Regions from separate parts of the Homo sapiens genome. Here region 1 is linked to region 2. The links come from fine-mapping of genetic effects on gene expression. Tissue or cell type: whole blood. Region 2 holds a variant in brackets; the other region holds the start of a gene. All regions are shown on one strand. Distances are from middle to middle.

What was found. PIP is the estimated chance that this variant, and not a neighbour inherited with it, causes the effect.
Region 1: it holds the start of TMTC2, and the variant in region 2 is fine-mapped to the expression of TMTC2 in whole blood (TOPMed, PIP above 0.99).

What each region holds. Positions count from the first base shown.
Region 1 is chr12:82,683,529-82,692,921 of GRCh38, forward strand. TMTC2 (transmembrane O-mannosyltransferase targeting cadherins 2) reads left to right here and starts at 3,378. Exons shown (of 12, transcript NM_152588.3): 1 at 3,378-4,141. The coding sequence starts at 4,059. RefSeq lists silencers at 2,329-2,408, 3,259-3,358, 3,929-3,978, 4,339-4,398 and enhancers at 2,839-2,988, 3,009-3,218.
Region 2 is chr12:82,943,497-82,954,518 of GRCh38, forward strand. All of the region lies in intron 4 of TMTC2 (transmembrane O-mannosyltransferase targeting cadherins 2), which reads left to right. Among named protein-coding and RNA genes, the nearest start is that of TMTC2, 260 kb to the left of the region's middle. The variant A/C (reference allele first, on the strand shown) is at 4,880.

The DNA.
Region 1 (9,393 bases), 260 kb before region 2:
GAAACCTACATTAAATTATAATAGAAAAATTTGTTAAAAGCAACTGGATTTCTCAAACACAGCTAGGTTTTCAGCCTTCTGTTTATCAGGGAAGGCAAGATGTGCCATTTTACAGCCCATCTCCCAGTCACCTAGGCTTCCAATTCAGAGGTATTGGGAGGTGGGGAAAGGAGAAAACGAGGAGATGGAGGAGTGTATAAAATTTATTTAAAACTATTGGAGCCATGGCTGGGCGCAGTGGCTCATGCCTATAATCCCAGCACTTTGGGAGGCCAAGGCAAGTGGATAACTTGAGGTCAGGAGTTCAAGACCAGCGTGGGCAACATGGTAAAACCCCCGTCTCTATTAAAAATACAAAAATTAGTCGGGCTTGATGGCACACACCTACAATCCCAGCTACTGGGGATGCTGAGGCAGGAGAATCGCTTGAGCCCGGGAGGCAGAGGTTGTAGTGAGCCAAGATCGGGCCACTGCACTCCAGCTTGGGCGACAGAGTGAGATTCTGTTTCAAAAAAAAAAAAAAATTAAAAATTAAATTAAACTATTGGAGCCTTAAAAATGAACACAGCTGTGGAAAAGGCTTACAAGCTTTTAGCATGTGGAACCCAAAGCTCTCTAATATTTTTACATATCTGAGTCCTCTTAATAACTGAAGAGACCTGTCCATGTGACTCCCCTTCACGGGTATTCCTGCAGACTTGATGTATTCTGAAAAACTGTGAACCTGCTCCCTTCCTCTCTCCTTGGTTAATACTTCACGATCTTTAACACTAACGACAAACAATAAATCAGCGATGAAAATTTTTGGATTTTCCAGCTGTTACGTAGTTTCTCCTAAGCACATTTATTTTGTTCATTTATTAACAATCTTTTTAAAGTTTCTTCTCCGTGTCCAGATGTTATAGGCTCTGGGTTTTATGTGGAAAAGAAGACTGACAGGATCCCTGACCTCATGGAGCTTCCACTCAGTGGTGCTTCCAGATACTAATACATACTATGAAGAAACTAATACATGGTGGTTGGATAGAGATTGATGGGGGAGAGCCTACTTTATTTCTGAGGTTATGCCATTTGAGCTAAGACCTGAATGGTGAGAAGGAGCTAGAGAAGGTTTGAGGAGAAGAACCTCATGCAGGAGGAAGAGAAAGTGGTTAGTTCCTGAGAAGGATGTCTGTGTTGTACACATATGAACACAACATGAAGCGGGAGGGGTAGTCTGGGCTAAATGAAGGCTTGGCTGGCCATGGTAAGAATTAGTTTTATTAGCTGTAAAACAGGAAGTTGTTGGACATTTAAAAATACAACAGGAAGTTGTGGAACATTTAAAAATTGGGAATGTATAGGTTTTCAAAGGAAACTTCTGCCTAAAGTTAAAATTGGGGAAGGGAGGCATTGCAGGGGTAGAAGTACGGGGACCACTTAGAGGGCTACTGCATTTGTCTATGCAGGAGATGAGGGCAGCTGGGCTGTGGACTCAAGTAGTAAAGATGTGATAGGATGTGTTTTGGAGGTAACTGTCCAGGTTTTTGTTAACAAGTAAAATGAAACGAGGAAGCTAGAAAGCATAGTAATAATGATATACTAGCTAATACTTCTGTAGCACTTTCCTGGTCCCTTTTAGATATTTTACATAGGTTAACTACTTTAATACTCATAATAACAGTACTCATAAGATAAGTACTATTATTATCACTGTTTCATAGATTAGAAAACAGAGTCACAAAGAGGTTGAACGACTGGCCAAAGATCGCCCAAATAGTAATAGCAGAGTATGCACTCAAACTTAAACATCTGATCCCACAGTATGTGTTCTTCCTTCAGTGTTCTAGGACACCATATACATATTTTATATATACTATATATATCTCAGCATGTAAGTGCATTGGAGAGACACAGAGCATCAGGATGGACTAACTGATATGATTTTCAAAATTTTCAAGTGAGCAAAGGTTATGGAGGAAAAGGGTAAAAGATCAGTCCCTACCTGTAAAGACATAATTCCTTTTATTTTTGTTTACATATATTTGTCCAGGGCACAAAAAATGTGCTACTGTGGATGGCATAACAGGTATAATATTAATAAATATTCATCATTTTATCTGTGTGTATCCAATACAGATTTCTCAGATTTCCTTGTGAAATCAGGGAAATATGTAGCTTTGTTCTACAGAAGCCCAGACCACGGTATTTTCTTTCCAGGCCACTGCTAGACACCCAGGGGGCTCAATTTCTTGCCACAGTTTCGGAGAGCTTGCTGGTTAGGTGCTGCTCTTGGTTGGAACCAGTCGGCCCGCATGCAAAACAGACCTGTCTTCCACACCTTGTGGTTACTATGCAGCAGGGGGCGCTGCAGTAGTGTACATCGCGGTGCACCGGAGCTACTCTCCTGGCCAGAAAGCCAACAAGCCGGGAGGAGGCGTGTCAGGCAGCCCTGGGTCCTCTTTGGTCTTGCAACTTTAGTACCCAGAGCTTGTTCTACACAGACCATTCTACACCATATTTCACCATGTTGGATGCTTTCCATCCAGTCCTGCCTCCGAGCGGAAAGGAAAGGGCATTAGCTTACTGCCTTACTAGGTTTAAGTATAATGCTGTACCGGCTTGCACTAGAGGTTTCTCTCCTGTGTTCTCAGGGTCAACCCGACAGTCCCTCTGAAACCACGAAGGGGTCCCCGGGCAGTTGCTGCGGGGTGTGTGTGTGTCTTTCTTTCCCTTTTTGGGGTCCTTTCTTTTTAACCTTACTGAAGGAGGAAACGTTTCTCTCCCTACACGTCTTTCCACTGACATTGTGGCCAACCGTAGGCTAAGAGCTGAAATCTCTCCTTCCTAAGTTGCCTCCAAGCTCTCCAATACTACCTCCTCCCCCCCATTTAGTCTCACACACAGTGTGCGTGAGAGATCGCCAGTGAGTTTGTGACAACCGAAGCTGCAGCAGTCGCCAAACCTGTTCTTCCTCTCCCGGTCTCAGAAGTCTCTCCAGCTGACCGGACTTACGCCTGGCAGCTCTTGGCACACACAGCGCTGTGGCTGAGATTCAGCCGTGCCAGGCGCTGCCAGGCAGCAGCGGGGCGACCGACCACCTCCTCCTCGACCTCCTTTCTCCCAGCTTCCCCTCCCAGGGTGCACTGTATCTACTCCTTTGGGCTGTCTTCCAGCCGTCGCCCTTGGGTCCCGGGGGCTTTCCAGAGTGAAATCGAAGGTGAAAGAAACAAGAGGACGGGAGGCTGGTAGGAGGAGCCTCCAGGCCGGGGAGGGTGGGAGGAGCCTCCAGCCCGAGGGGCAGGGTAGGAGGAGCCTTCCGGGAGGATCTGGGTGGAGAAAGGGGCTGGGCCAAGCCGGGATGGAGGGTTGGTCACGCAGGCGCGGGGGGCCGCGTCGAGAACCCCACGCGGGAGCTTCTGGAGTCTCCAGCCACCGCTTCTCACTTCACTGGAGAAGGGAGCTGGGGCTGGGGCTGGGGCTGGGGCTGGGAGGGAGCTAATAAACATTGAATGTGCAGCAGCTGCCTTGGCGGCCGGAGTCCGCCCGAGCGACACCGGAGCAGTGCGCCCGGGAGGCGGCGAGGGGAGGCGGTTCGCCTTGTCCCTCCCACCCGCGCCTCTTTCTCTCTCTTCCTCCAGCTGGTCCCAGAGCCCGGCTTGGTCCGGTCCCTCTGCCCCCATCCCGCACCCTTCCACCTCCTCCGAGTCCCACTCCTCACCTAGGACGCCCCAAACTGCCATGGGTTAGGGTGGGGATCGCGACCCGCGCGAAAGACCAGCCCTGCGCTTCCGCCGGGGGACGCGGAGCCCAAACGCCGCTCACCGCTTGCGGGCGCCGGGCATGGGGAGTGTGGTGTGAGCCCGCACCCGGGGAGGACGCAGGAGCTGCGGAGACGGGCGCGAGGAGGAGGAGAGGAGTCGTGGATTGGAAGGACCCGAGGGAGGGAGGGTGGGGAAGCGAGGGAAAAGTGAAGCTGGGAGGAGAAGGCGGCGGAAGGTGGAGATTGATGCTTCTGTTTTTTGTTGCCGCTGCTGCCCTCGCGCTGGGAGCCGAGCCGGAGGGAAGGCGGTGGAGAGATGATTGCAGAGTTGGTGAGCAGCGCTCTGGGGCTCGCCTTGTATCTCAACACCCTGAGTGCGGATTTCTGCTATGATGACAGGTAAGGGGCCGAGAGGAGGGGGCGACGGGCTGCAGGGGGCACACTCCGCAGTGGCTCTGAAGCTTCCCTCTTTAAGGCTCAAAGTGCGTCTTGGAGGAACTGGTTCAGCACCTGATGGTTTAGGCGACACGTAAACATTAACACCTAAATCAAACACCGGGGACGTGAGGCGCGCTGGGCGGGCCGAGGGAGTTTCCGCTCCTAGTTTGCAGCAGGTTCTCTCCCTTGCTTCTCGGCTGTTGGCAGACGCTTGAGTTTCTTAGCGGAAATCCCGGCAATTTGGGAAACTGTTTAATGAACGTATTAAATTAAAGTCTTAGGTATTCCTTGATGCAACAAAGCACATTAAGTGATTTTACGTCTGGTTGGGAGGAAGCCTCTCCTCGATCCCTGATAGATCCTCCCTGTCCCGTTTCCTTTTATTGATGGGACACTTTTATTTCCCGAAGTTAAAACACACGTTTGATAGTTGCCAAAATTGTGAAAAGGGAGATCGTTCTCTGCTTTAACTTTCCCTTTTAACGTGTATAGACTTTTACTTTGAGCCAAAATAATGCTGCTGATGGTCTCTCCCGCCGCCCTAGCCTCCTTCACCAATCCATTGGGCAGCACTTTATAAAAGCCTCGGCTTTCTCATTTCTGTTTGGGAGTTGTACATTAGATGTTAGTGGTTCTTTTGTACTAATTGGAGAAGAAGACGCCCCTAGAGACTGAAGTTGTCTTCTGCACTTAGGTTAGTTTGGGTGGCTAATGAGACCTGAACTGTGTTGTCAAAGAAACTGCATCGATTTCTGGAAAATGTCACCGTTGTGTTGGTGTCTCTTCCTATCTTTTAAACGTTATTAGTGTTCAGAAAGTGATGAAAAGCCCCTATATCCATTAGGGAAAATTCCAATTTGTGTCCTTCCGGTGTCTTAATCTGATTACAATTAAAACAGATGCATAATTAAAATATATTAGGGATAACAGCACGCCTGGCTAAACTTATTAACCGTCCTGGGGTGTTTCATGCTCCATTGAAATTAAACCATCCAAAAAGTGAGCACAGATTTACTTTGACAGCTTTTCAGCAGCCTCTCTGAGCTATGAAAAGTGAATGGATCCCCAGGGTTAGGGCGAGGCAGTGAGAGCACTTACGCAAAGTGGTTGACAGTGAGGGGAGGTGAAGGCAGAATCTTCTTCTCGTCGTAATTAGCCACATTCTGTATTCTCTGGTGTGCCCATTCTCCTGCTAAAAGCATCTTCACATCTCTGTTAAAAAATCACCTGATAATAGGTGCCAGAACATCCAGCAAACCCGTCTTAATGCATTTTATGTAGTGCCTACCAGAGGCTAGTTGATAGGGAACCACTGTTAGACATACATTTTTTCTTAACTTTTACGCAGCATACTGATTTTAGCAACTACACAGCATGCTCTGAGAAATGGTCTGTAGGAGTGAGGTAAATTTCTGTTCTCTCCAATTTTGTGTAATGGTGCACCTGCTATTTCTAGCATATTCGTGGAAAAAGCCCTTGTTTCCAAAGATGGGTGACTTTTCACTAAAACCAGCTTGGGTCAGTGTGGGCAGTTACTGGCTCTGTTGGGGGCGGTTTGAATAGTAAGCATTTAAACCAAGAATATAGAGTTTATTTAAAAAAAGAAACTTACTATAATAATGCAACTTGATGGGTGACTTTTCACTAAAACCACCTTGGGTCAGTGTGGGCAGTTACTGGCTCTTGGGGGCAGTTTGAATAGTAAGCATTTAAACCAAGAATATAGAGTTTATTTAAAAAAAGAAACTTATTATAATAATGCAACTTGTTATAGAACACGGTGGTGAATCAAGTATTCCTATTGTATGCCCTTGTTCATTGCTGTCTAATCCTTAAGAAAATACACATCAGAAGAAGCCATTCTTTAAAAATTAAGGTTAAATTTGGATATGCATTTTTCTATAGGTATAATTGTTCTGTGCTCTTGAGTCATCAGAAGTGTTAGGACTGGACCTTGTAACTTGGAAGAATGGTGTGAGTGTGATGATAAATTAGTTGTGCTTTGATGGTTGGCAGTTGTAAGTTTTTCAGATGCAATAGTCTAATGGAGTGTTAAAATTCGTGACTTCTATCTTGTAGCTACATAGGTGAATATAGTATGATTATTTGCCCATATGATTTTATTGATAGCATGCTCAATATGATGTCTAGATAGTATATATTGATAAAATATTGAGGGCCTGTAACTGTGAATTATACTTTGCTACAATTTGAAAAGTGTATTTTACACTGATTTCTTAGCAGAACTACATATGCCATCACATATTCTTAGAATGTGAAATCTTAAGAGCAGCAAACTTTGTTTTTATGTATCCTAGAAATTATGAGACACATAAATAGGAGCACTGAACTTATTTGTTGTATGCACAGCCTGTTCAAGTGATTCATTGTGAAGTTACACTATAAATTGTGGCTTTTCTGATATATTTTCTATCTAACTACTGTAACTCACTGGTGTGTGAAGGGGGAGGAAAGCTGGGGAGCCAAGTGTAAACTGTAGGATGATGATAATTTGTTTATTTCCGCTACTACATTTCAGATGCAAAGATTCATGTTTAAAACATTGCTTAAACTAGACCTGTGGATTCTGCTGCCCTCCAGGAACTTTTGTGAAATCCAGTTCTGTAAGGAGAGGCCAGTGCCAGAAGTGAAGGGAGAAGCACTCAAGGGAGATGGCTGTTATTCCTGACTTGCTTAACTAAATCATTATTGCTGTGGTACTTCTCAAGGTTATCATTTCTTTTAAATATAGTGATCGTTTACTTTATAAACTATATATAATTTCTTTCCATGTTTGATGTAGCTTGGTTGAAATTAAATGGTAACATGAAACTTTCTTATAGCACAATCAATTTCTCTATGGTAAAATTTAATATTTTACAAGTGTTTCTGTGCTAAATTTAAGAATATGCCTCTGATGTGATGAAACAAACAGTGGAGGAGAAGAATTCACAGTATCTGATGAAAAAGGGTATGTGGTTTCAGCTTCATCCTCCCTCCCCTTGCTTTCAATCTAGTATTGAATCTTAAGTTGTGGTTAGAGGAAAATTGAAATTAACAATATGCAGTCTTTGCCAAATTTTAAGTTATGTTGTATGTGATTCCTTAAAGGATTTTCTCTTATTTTCTGGAGAAATTTGGTGTTTAGGTCAGTGGTAAAACTTCTCTGACCCAAAACTCTCTGCATTCTTACGCATTTGTTGAGGATGACATGGCATCACTTTTTTCTTATCCTTTTTAATAATACTGTTATGAGTTTCTTATGGAGATAACACCATGAGAGGAGTCAGTTTACTTCAAAGCAGACAAAGGTAAACAAACCATAACTGTTCTAAACTTTAGAAGTCTGATTTCACTTAGCACATATCTTCTAATTGGTGACATGCCCTTTTTATACATCGACAAGTAAATAAGATAATGCAACTTTTACATGCTTTAAATTCTCATATGAGTAAAATAATTTATTAGTTTGCAAAGACAATTTGCAGGTTTGGAAGTAGAAAATATATTTGCGACTCCTCTGAAAATTTATTTTCTTATTGCCCATTTTGCATTTGTTAAACTCAACCAGAATCATTAATGTTACCTGTAGATCTCTTAGCTATTCCACTGTGCAGTAATTTTTTGAAACTTGGAGAAACAACTACACAGCAGAAGTTTCTACTATGGAATTAAAATTACATCAAGCTCTTAATAATTCACTCCTAGTTAGCTTTTCATTTGGGTATAAATGGAAATCTCAGTTTTTATAAACACATGAGTTAATTTTTTCTTTATAATGATTTTAATATTATTTAAAATGAAGGAATGGAATTTAAGTATATTAACAATTTTTTTAAAACCTGCATTCTTTCTAAAGATATTGAACTATTATTTCTGCTTGATCTTTTAATGTTATTGTTAGTTTGGGTTTTTTGACCTGGTATGATAGGAATCCCTCGTGAAATAATCACTCTGTTAACTTATCTTTAAAAAGTTCTCTCTAATAGACTTGTCTTTGACCAATCTGAGATTGTTATCTTAAGATTCCAGCATGTGTAACTACTGAAGGCAGGCCTGGTATTTAGTAAAAAGCATGTTTAGAAAGAATTACTATATAATTAAGTAAGGGAGAAGCTCTCTTTGTATCAGTGGTTGTCTTATCAAGTGATTATTATAAGAAGCCACTGTATACAGAAGTATGGTCTTACTCTTCAGTTTCCTTCCCAGTTTTCACTGGAATACAAGTTAGAGTTTATAAATTATTTTAGGTGGCATTTTATTTTCTAACTACATTTTGATTGTTTAAACAAACCTATTTGGAAAAAGTTCATTTTGCTGTTTTGAATAAGTATATCTCATCAATAAATTAAAATTAGGTGAAGTCAGTATGAACCGCTTTACCTCCATTGAGCCTGTCACATGATGTTTATCATAGTAATTGACCCACATACATGCATTGAATGGACATGTGCAAATGCCACAGGGAAAATTGCCATCTGTCTCTTAGTTGTTTTCATACACACATACACACACACATACATGCACGATTATTACATTTACATTGGTGATTCTATGGGCTTTTGTTTTGTCATCTGCACTTAGTTCTTCAGTGCTAATGTGCCCCTGTTGTTAATACTGAATTCTCTTCTGCTATAATTTTGAAATAGCAACAACCTTTTGCATTCCAGCATGCATTAGGAACATAGTTTGTCTTTCTAACAGTTTTGTTGCTGCTCAGCACACTAAAAGCACTTTTCAAAAAAATGCCTCTGGTGGTACAACTGTCTTTCGTAGGCTAAAGGTGCGTTGTCTCTAAAGCAGGAACCTTTGTAATATTAGGAAAGGATGACGTTTACCCTTAAGGCTCTTTGAAAAATCTGTGGCTGACAAACCTACTTTCTTATAACTTTATTATACTCATCTGAAGTGCTTTTAACACAGCAACTTTCATCTGTTAACCTTTCTGGTTCTCTCTTAGGAGCAGAGTATTGTATCAGCTTTGGATACTTATTTTAATGGCTTCACAAAAGTGACAAGTGTGGCAGCCTCCAAGGAAAGGAACGGTGGGTTATTGAATGTAAAGACCTCTCCTCTATAAATAGCTGTCCTCATTTAGGAGCTCAGTTTTTTAAAAAAGTGGAGGGATATTTCAGCAGGACTGCATACCTTCTTTTTTTCATTGGGTGAAAAAGGCATAATATTTTGAATAATTGCTGGTGTAATTACATACA
Region 2 (11,022 bases):
CCTGCTAGTTTTGGAGGTATCTTTTTTGTCCACAGTTGATTTTGCACTCCTGTTCTCTGATTCACTGTGATTGATTTTACAGTTTAGCTCTCAAGGTGAAATTTATCTTCCTGCCACTCAAAATCCTCAATTCTTATAGCACCTATTTCAGACATCACTAGTTTTCACATAATTCTGAGAAAGAATGAGCAATTCTAAAGTTCAGTCAAGACTGATTATGTCTTTTGAGTATATTTATAAATATGAATTTACATTTTGGAAATAAGGATCCATTAATTTATTCAACAAATACTGAGTACCTTCAGAGTGATAGACATCATATTAAAAGATGGGAATAAGCTGACAAAGTGTAGTTTCTACTCTCAAGTAACTTGAAGTCTGGATGTAAAAATAGAATGTTATGTAATAAAGTGACATCTTTTCTGAGTGATATGCTTATATTATCGTGACAAGGTATACAAAGAAATGTAAATCAGCCTGAAGGAAAGAGAAATGAAAAAGAAAAGAATAGAGGAGTCATACTAGAAAGACAGGTAAGTAAGGTGGTTTGGGGGAATTACTTTTCAGTGTTGGCTAAGTTTGAGGTGACTATTGAACATCCAGTGGGCAACTGGAATGTGTTTCCATAGTTCATGAGAGCATTTTGAGCTAAAGGGTATAGATTTTGGTGTCATAATTATGTAAATTAAAACTGAAAATAAATAATGTGTATGTGAATAATATGCATAAGAATAAATGGAAGAACCATGGGTGGAATCCTAGGGAATACCGATATTTAAGGAGATCGATAGAAAAAATAGAACCCTGGCTGGGCATGGTGGCTCACACCTGTAATCCCAGCACTTTGGGAGGCCAAGGTGGGCGGACCACGAGGTCAGGAGATCGAGAACATCCTGGCTAACACGGTGAAACCCCATCTCTACTAAAAATACAAAAAATTAGCTGGGTGTGGTGGCGGGCACCAGTAGTCCCAGCGACTCCCAGGCAGGAGAAAGGCGTGAACCCGGGAGATGGCGCTTGCAGTGAGCCGAGATTGCACCACTGCACTCCAGCCTGGGTGACAGTCTCAAAAAAAAAAAAAAAAAAGGAAAAGAAAAAGAAAAAGTAGAAACCTAAAGTTGGCTTAAGGAGTACAGTAAAAGACTAAGTTGTGTGATGTCATTGAAGCTGTTGGTTAGGACAGTAAGATGGGAGAAAATGGCCAAAACCATGTACTATAGAGAAGTTAAATATTTCTATGGACTTTTTTGTGTCCCCATGGGAAAAAAAGATAGTGACATCAGTCCTAGGTGTAGAAACTTAAACATGTTATTCACTTCTCCTCCACGTGGTATTCAGAGAACAGCATGTTGCTATCACAAAACTACAGGGTATCATTCAGAGAGTGAATTTATCTTATGAAATATATGGACACAAAGACCAAAGAACTGAGATTCACACTAGGAGGTCTTTGATGGCTGGAGATGTAAATTAATATGTATTTGTTTCTATCACATAGTGAGGTCTTCAGTACCTCCTTAGTTCTTAAATGCTTTCAAATCAAATTGAATCAAACAACTGATTTCACACTCATTCCTCTTATAGCAATGGAAATTGGTGTCTAGAATTGCCTGCTGAACTAACTATTAAGCCTTGCACTCCCCACTCTACCCCAAAGCAGAATTGGGGGAAATCAGAATCCTTTTAGAAATTGGAGCCTGGCAAAAGAAAGATTCACTCATTCCTATGCTCATTTGTATTAAAGGTTTTCTCTTACAAACGTAGCTGCAAAATTGTATTATGTAGAAATATTCATTCAAGAGTGTAGAGTGAGTTAAACTATTTTCCATGTTGGAAAATGGTGAAAGACATTTTTCTGCAATCTCATTAAAAGGCCTTTAATTTTATTGTCGTTTTCATCCAGGACACTGTAGGTAAATTTGAGGGCATATATTAGAAAACCCATAAAAGAGGTTTATAAAGAAGTTCATAATCACATCCTGTTTTAATGCCTTTTGTTTGGTTTAACTTTAAAACTGATTGAAAGTTACTTAAATGGCCAGAAGCTTTCTGTTGTTCCTAAAATTACGCTAACATGGAAAGTGCAGGCTGATGTGCAGCAGAATTTCAAGTAAATTAATTTCAATTTTCTCAGAAGGAGGTTTTGCATTATGAAAAAAGTTTCTTATTTCTCTGCTCCTGAAGAAAAATGAACAGATGTAAATTTATTTGTGTAGTTCCAATCAGTCCTCTGCAGATTTCCAATTACTGTGAGTTAAGAATTATTTCCTAGACACACCAGGAAATATAGTAATATTGTCTTTCACTTAATTTACTTTCTTTCTTGTACAAAACCTAACTGTGGTTTCCCCTATATGATGGAAAAGTTACTTAAAGTGTAATTGAAGTTTGAAGGACATCTGGATATTTAGATGATAGTGAATTTAAAAAATGAATGTGTCATCTGCTGCTTATTTTTTCTTACATATTATTTCTACTAAATAATACATTATTTCTATAGCTAAATTATATCACTCATTTCTTTCAATTCTTTGCTTCAATGTTACTCTCTGAATGAGGCCTCCTAGCCAATTCTATTTAAATTAGCAACCCATCTGCCTCTCTCAGACTTCTGTTCCCCTATACTTTATTCTTTAAAACATTGCATGTATTACCTTCTAGTGAACTATATAATTTACTACCTATAATGACAAATAATGATATTAAAATTAATGTAAACCTAGTTTACTTTGTATATTGCTAAAATGTAAGCTTCACCAAAGCATTGTTTTTATATATATTCTTAGTGTCTGCAATAGTGCTTAGCATATGTGTTCAATAAATAATAGTTGCATGCACATTGATTTAGGTACATATGTTTTCCTTAAATTCCTCATGTGTGAAGGGTGTACATAGATTACTTTAGAATCTTTCCTTCTCTCTTTCTCCCTTCTTCTCTCCCATTTACCCCTGCAGAATTAAAGAATACCTAAGGATGCCCTTTTTGCTTCACATCTCCATTGCTTTTAATCATTGTGCCTCTCATTTCATTTTGCACTTAGCGACCCTATTGTTACAGATGATAAGCTGAGGGTGTTTCATGGCACAGGGTTTGGGTAAAAGTGATGCCATCTTGCTATTCTGATAATAAGGAGGACAGTGTGAGGAAATGTCCAACAGCCATCTAGCAATAGAGAGACAGATGGAGCCTTGTTCTAGAAACCACATGTCATCATCAGACTCAGAGAGTAGGCATGCACTTTTCTTTTCTTTTTTTTTTTTTTGAGACAGAGTCTTGCTCTGTCGCCCAGGGTGAAGTGCAGTGGCGCCATCTCGGCTCACTGCAAGCTCCACCTCCCGGGTTCACGCCATTCTCCTGCCTCAGCCTCCCAAGTAGCTGGGACTACAGGCGCCCGCCACCACCCCGGGCTAATTTTGTGTATTTTTTAGTAAAGACGGGGTTTCGCAGTGTTAGCCAAGATGGTCTCGATCTCCTGACCTCGTAATCTGCCCTCCTCGGCCTCCCAAAGTGCTGGGATTACAGACGTGAGCCACCGCACCCGGCCCAGGCATGCACTTTCTTTAACAACAGAAATTTCTGGTTAGAACAATCCAAGTTGTCTTAAGTCTACAGGGTGACTGGGTTTTAACTGCACTGTTATTCTAAGGACAGCCTTTAAAAGATGGTATTGTGTTTGAGTGTGTCCCCTGTACATTTGCCTGTTTGAAATAAAATTTCTTTAGAAAAAAATCTCTAAATCTTCAAAGACCAACTTTAGTGTTAGGTGCAAACCTGGGCTGCAAAGTGTGTACTCAGTCTCCTGAAACTGGGTGTTGGAGCAGAGTGCAATTTTTTTTTCTTTTTTTTTCTTTTTTTTTTTTTTGAGACGGAGTCTCGCTCTTGTCGCCCAGGCTGGAGTGCAGTGGCGCGATCTCGGCTCACTGCAAGCTCCGCCTTCCGGGTTCACGCCATTCTCCTGCCTCAGCCTCCCGAGTAGCTGGGACTACAGGCGCCCGCCACCATGCCCGGCTAATTTTTTGTATTTTTAGTAGAGACGGGGTTTCACCGTGGTCTCGATCTCCTGACCTGGTGATCCGCCTGCCTCGGCCTCCCAAAGTGCTGGGATTACAGGCGTGAGCCACCGTGCCCAGCCTCAGAGTGCAATTTTTAATCAAAAGCAACAATCGATGGCTTGGAAAAATAAGCAAGTTGGCCATTTCTTACGCCCTGTTTTTTTGTTGTTGTTTTGTTTTGTTTTAAAGAAAAGTCAAGGGAAATAAGACCAGTAGCCTTATTAAATATAAGGGTAGAATGAATAGAAAAGAGAATAGAAGCAAGTGCTGCTGAGTGTATTTGCCAGTTTTCTCTTAATTTGGCATCTTGATCCCCAGACCTCCATCATTCTGTCAACGTCTCTCAGCCCTTTTTCTCCATTCTTCAGCCTTGTCTACCAATTTGGCTCCTGCTTCCATGACTGAAGCCGCTAAATGATGCCTATGGCAATGAATTGCTCCTCATTCTCTATGACCACTGAGTTCAGTGAAGGGGGCCATTCCTTTTCTGCACCAAAATTAAATCAACAAATGCAACTTTAGAAAGATTGTTACAGGCCAAGCTCAGTGGCTCACATCTGTAATCCAGCACTTTGGGAGGCCAAGGCACGAGGGTCACTTGAGCCCAGAAGTTCAAGACCAGCCTGGGCAATATAGTGAGACCTTGTTTCTATTTAAAAAGCAAAAATAGCCAGGCCTGGTGGCAAATGCCGATAGTCCCAGCTACTTAGGAGGCTGATGTGGGAGAATTCCTTAAGCCCAAGAGACTCAGGCTGCAGTGAGCCATGCTTATACCACTGCACTCCAGCCTGGACAACAGAGGGAAACCCTACCTTAATTTAAACAA[A/C]AAAAAAAAAGATTGTTATGAATAGTGTTTTTCTTCTAATTCTGAAGTATTCAGGATAAACCTTCAAGTGAATTGTTGCTAAGTTGAAAAATCTATTCCAAGCAAAAAAATATATATATAGCTTCAGACTTTCATTTTTGGAACTCATCTTCCTTATTTTTAACTTAGAAACTGCTTGTATGACCTAACACCTATTCCCGCTGGTCCATAAGATACATGATACCTTTTCCCCTTTCATAATTTATTGCTTTAACAGCAGACTTTCATTAGTGCACTGCTGTTAAGGGACAAAGAAAACACCCACTTTGTTGAACATTTATGTTTAAAGTGAGTGCATTGCACTAAATCTCTGTGTGCCCATGGGGTCATCTCTAACCCAAATTATAACCATATCTGTGATGGAATCTTGCCGTGAAGCTTTTTTTTCTTTTTGTAATTTTTTTGAGTGTGTTGATTTCTGTAGAATTCTCAAAAGCTATTTTTTTTTTTCCTTTTTTCTTCCCTCTGCCTGAACAAACTTGTTTAAGTTAGGTTTTCTGGCTGTGGACTTCCATAGTGTATCATACTATACCAAAGCATTCAAAGCATATCAACTCAGCATTGGCGCTGCTTTTTAAATAATTTATCTTTTCTAATCATTAAACCTCCATAATGGTACTTTCAAAATATGTTTTGAATGAATAAACAAGTCAGTCTAACTACATTGAGTTTTACTGAGCAAGAAAGGTTTTGGCCTATGCTTGTATTCCAGCGTAGGAGTTCCTCTGCAGTGGTTACACACTCTCCAACTGATAGGTGTTTCTTCTCCAAGAAATTACATAAAGATTAGACGTCCATGTTGGATAGCACCTGCAAATAGCAAAGAATAGATAGTAAATCAGTATATAGGTTTAAAGTTAAATCATTTGTGGTTAGTGCCTTTAACTTGTGTTAGATGCTTTTCATTTCTTAATTTTGTTTGTTTTAAATAAAAATTCTCCCAGAGGATGAAGGAAATACTTGAAAGAGATTTGACTGTGATTCCAGAAGATATATATGGACTTACCAGAGTCATATTTGTTTTCATGGGAAGGGTAATGGGGAAAGGGGAAAAGTTGCTTTTTTAAAATTTTTTAAATTAAATTATCTGGCAACCTTGTACTTTGGAGGCAGCTCAGTGAAATACTTCAGAGCATGTCTTTGGCTTTAAACAGACTTGGCTTCAAATCATTCATTTATTGGTCCTGTGTCTGACCTTAGGCAAATTATTTAATCCTTATTCTTCATCTGCAACATTGGGTTGAGTTGCATTATATAATATAAGAGACGTTAATATAATGTCTAGAAATTTGATATAATTATATGATAATAAAATCTGAAGAGTTTGTTAGCTGGTAATTTTATTCTATTTCTTAGTGTTCCCTGGCTATGCCATTTTGGGGCTATGTCTTATCTCACTGGCAACCACGTCCATGAAGAGGAGTGAGTCCAAAGCACAAGAGTAACTCAAGGAAACCCCTTTATAAGTGTATTGGTTGTGATGCATTTCTTGGTAAAATAGAGGTTGACTGTCATTGGGAGGCTGCAGTTTATCTCACGATGCAAATTCAAGATGCTTACATGTTGGGAAGTGCATGTATAAATAAGAAAAGAAGAGAAATTTGTTGACTGAGATAATTAAGAAGCAGTGTGTATATGAACCAGAGAGAAAGGGCGGGTATTAATACTAAGCTAAAAGCAGTCACCTATTCCCAGTGTTGGTGATTTGAAGCCTGATACCTCTGAATTTGAATCTCATCTTGAGTCTTGACAGCTACATTATCATGGACAAATTATTTAAATTCTCCCCCTTCATTTTTAGACTCTAAAGTAAAAAGAATAATAATTGCTATTGCTAATTGCAAGGGTGGAAAGAAATAATATGAAAAACTTAAACCCCAAGTATTAATCTTTATTACTTCCTGTTGAGTACTGTTTTTAAACTAGGAAAATATATTCACACCTATTATTTTGACATGTGGAAGAAAATGTAGTCTTAGTTATATATTCAAAAGGTAGGTACAAAGTAAATTATGCATATATGAATATACAATGTAGTTCTCCGAATCCTAGATCCAACAATAACAACTAGCTGCATAGACTTAAGTTGCTTAACCATTCTGATCTTTGAACCCTTCATTTTAAGATAAGGTTGATACCTTTATGGGTTCATTGTGAGAAATACATAATAGTTGTAAAGCGTCTTATTCACCACCTGTCACAAAGGTAGTAATGGACTAATATGGAACATAAAGGCTTATTTAGATGTCATAGTCCATGTTCAATCTCAGGAGAAGCCTCTTTGTAATGAATACTCCATTTAATCAAGACTTCACAAACTTTTAAATAAATGATACTGTAGTGAGGATATGTTTCTCTTTCTTTAGACTCTTAAGGAAAAACTCATATAAAAATTATTTTCAAAAGCTGCAACTTGTTATTTCTCTAATAATGTTAAAGAATAACGTTTTTGGCAATCCATCTGAAATAATTAAAAAGTCATTTAGATTGAATGCCTACTGTTTCATATTTAACAGGTTAGAATTTAAAAAAAGAACTTTATGAAAGACAGTGGCATTATTATACTTTATTTAGTTGTCCAAGTCTAAACAAAATTCAATTTAGAACAAATAATTAGGTCTGTGTCAAAAGAAGGATACCAGAGAGAGGGCTTAACTGTATTTTCTGACACCTACTTTGCAGTTTTGTGACACAAGTGACACACTCTGAAACAGATTTCAGCTTTGGAGACCTATGTAATAGAATCATGTGCCCTTATTTACCTAGTTTATGTGTGGCATGGTGGTGGTTTTTCTGTCCATCTCCTTTTTTCCATTTTTCTTAGTTCAATGAAAGTATAGAGCAGGGAAACAACTAGTTCAATACCCTTCCCAGTGGAATTTAACTTTTTTTTTTGAAATGGAGTCTCGCTCTGTCGCTAGGCTGGAGTGCAGTGGCACAATCTCGGCTCACTGCAATCTCCACTTCCCGGGTTCAAGCAGTTCTCCTGCCTCAGCCTCCTGAATAGCTGGGACTACAGGCACATGCCGCCACGCCCAGCTATTTTGTTGTTGTTGTTTTGTTTTCTTTTTTTGTTTTTGTGTTTTAGTAGAGATAGGGTTTCACCAGATTGCCTAGGCTAGTCTCGAACTCCTGAGCTCAGGCAATCCTCCCGCCTCGGCCTCCCAAAGTGCTAAGATTACAGGTGTGAGCCACTGCGCCCAGCTGGAATTTAACCTTTTAAAGAAGGGTACATCTTTTAATTTTGCTCACAGTACATATGATATGCAAAAATCACATAGAATAACGTAGCAGTATTTTAAAATATGTATTCAATTATGCCTTTCACAGCAAGTGTGTTAAGCATTTTTCTAATAACTCGAAAGTACGTGTTTTAAAGAAAGTCGGTCATTTACATTTGCATCCTCTATTAGTGCTTTTCTATCCAAAACACTCTTAGTTAAAATGTCATTTTTAACCAGTATTTAACATAGTTTAATTAAGGAAAAGAGAAAGGGAGAGAAATAGAGTATATGATTTGAGAAAAAAAAATATGAGTAATGAGAATTCTTTTGCTTGGTCCTCGAATACAAAGTCTGCTATCCTAAGATAACCTAAAAGTCACAGAAGTGCTTCATGAGACCAGAAACTATAGCTTTGTCTCTGGTATCTCCCGCGGAGCTCAGATTCAATAACTTATATCTCACTGAACTTTTTTTTCTGAGATGAAAATCCTACCTGTTTCTATTCTACTTAAAAATTTCTGAGTTCACCTCTTTCTAGTATTTGGATATGAAAAGGATTCATATGCCTTAAAAAAATACTACTAATGTCATTGTTCTTTTGGACAAACTGATATCTGTGACCACTCTGATGTCTAGGAACTTAATTTAAGAGTTCCAATTTCATACACCTATTACATTCTTAAATTATTTAATTTTAATTAAATATTTTAATTCCAAGTTTTATTCTTGGCAGTTGTCTAATCTGGTTATCACTCAAAACCAGACAACTCATACTTTGTATTTATTTGAATGTAATTAAATGAAGTTTTTATTAAAATTTCTCTATGAGCGCTATATTTGATGTTACATATTTTATAACTTTATATATACATACACACACAGACACACACACACACACACATATGTATATATGGTTTGTCTTTTTGAGATGGAGTCTTGCTCTGTTGCCCAGACTCAAGTCCAGTGGTGCAATCTTGGCTCACTGCAGCCTCTGACTCCTGGGTTCAAATGATTCTCCTGCCTCAGCCTCCCTAGTAGCTGGAACTACAAGCGCATGCCACCATGCCCTGCTAATTTTTGTGTGTGGTGTTTTTTTGTTTGTTTGTTTGTTTTTAGTAGAGACGAGGTTTCACCATGTTGGCCAGGCTGGTCTCGAACTCCTGACCTCAGGTGATCCACCCACCTCGGCCTCCCAAAGTGCTGGGATTACAGCCATGAGCCACCACGCCCGGCAGCATTATACATTTTTAAAAACACGAATAATGCATATGGCATTTTGTCAGTTGGGAAGAGGTTGGTTGTCAAGTGATAAGAAACCCAAAATAACAGTAGCTTAAACCAGTTACACATTTTTTAAATCTGTCTTTTAAAAAGGGAGTCCAGAGATGTGCAGTCCTTGCTGGTTGGACAGTTTTATAAAGGGCTTAGTTTCCAGGACTTGTGTGTTAGTTTTGGTTTGACCACTACCTCCCTCAACACAGGACTTCTGCCTTACAGCTAGCAGCAAAGAGGTGGGGTAAGGGAGGAAGTGCGCTCCTTTCAGGTGATTTCCTAAAGCAATGCAGGATTCTTGTGCTGCTCGTGACATGACCAAACCTGGCTGCATGTTTGATCGTGGTTCTTTTTATGTTTTCAGTTCCAACACAGTGGCTAGTGCATATTAGTTACTTAATTCCTAAGCTCTTGTGTCTCTCTAAATTTTGGAATTACTGTAATTAATTCAAGTAGTAGCGACTTATTTACAGTAAGTGAATTTAAAAAGGATTTTGAATTTAATTCCTTTTATTGCCAGTGTAGTCACTTGAGAATTTTGACTCATATCTATTTTATCAAACAAGATTTGGGAGCATTTGTGTTTCATGAGTGTACCGTGCTATTAAATTATCAGTCCTGTTGAATGATAGAGATTAAAGATTTATTTTTCCAAGTGTCATATTATAAATGTTGCTTAAAACTAAGCATAATTCTTGGGAAAAAAGTGAGCAAATGTGTCTGTGTAATCACATTTAACAATTAAGTTATGTAAAATCTCATTACTAAAGCCATTAGCTAAATAAGCAAATTTGATTAGGAAATTTGGATTAATGCAAAGTTCAAATATGACTGCAACCAATGTTGGTTCATTTCAGTTTGCAAATTTCAAATGCATAAAAAACCTTAGGAAAAAATGTGAGTATCTAAAATTTATGTTTTATCTCTGAGAAAAAAAAAAAACCCTTAGTTTCATAGTCCTTATGTGTGTTAAAGGACAATCAAACGAAATGAAATTCAGAAACATCTTTTAGTTTAAAATGAACATACTTCTTAAATAACTGGGTATTAAAAATATTTTGTGAATCATTGCCTATAAACATTGTTATCTGACTTATTTTGATTATTATTTTTTTTGTCCAGGGAATAGCCAGACTATTTATTACTGAAACTCATTCTTGGTAATATAGTCCTAATTTTCATTTGTCTTAGTTTTTTAGTTTCCCAGATGCTTCCTACATAGATTTTGTCATTTTATTTTCATGAAGCCTGTTATTATTGCTATTGTTAGGTGAAAAATGCTATCCTCTGTAACTCTTGAGTTTTCGTACACATGGCTTGATCTGTCTGGAATGCTCTTGTCGGCATTCCTGACTTGGTCCTTTTTTTTCTCGTCTTCTCTAGGAACTTCACCTCACCTGTTCTCTTGGGTAGGTGTTCCTTTCATGGGTTCCCAAAACACCTTACATTTTATCATGACCCTCTCTACACAGTATTGTGATTGTTTGCTTGTCTGTCTTCACTGTGAGACAATTCACTGAAAAATTATTTATTCATTATTTGGTAAGCTCCTTGTCAATGTTTAGTGTATTGTTAAGAGTGCTGCACATTGCACTTTAATGAAATCAA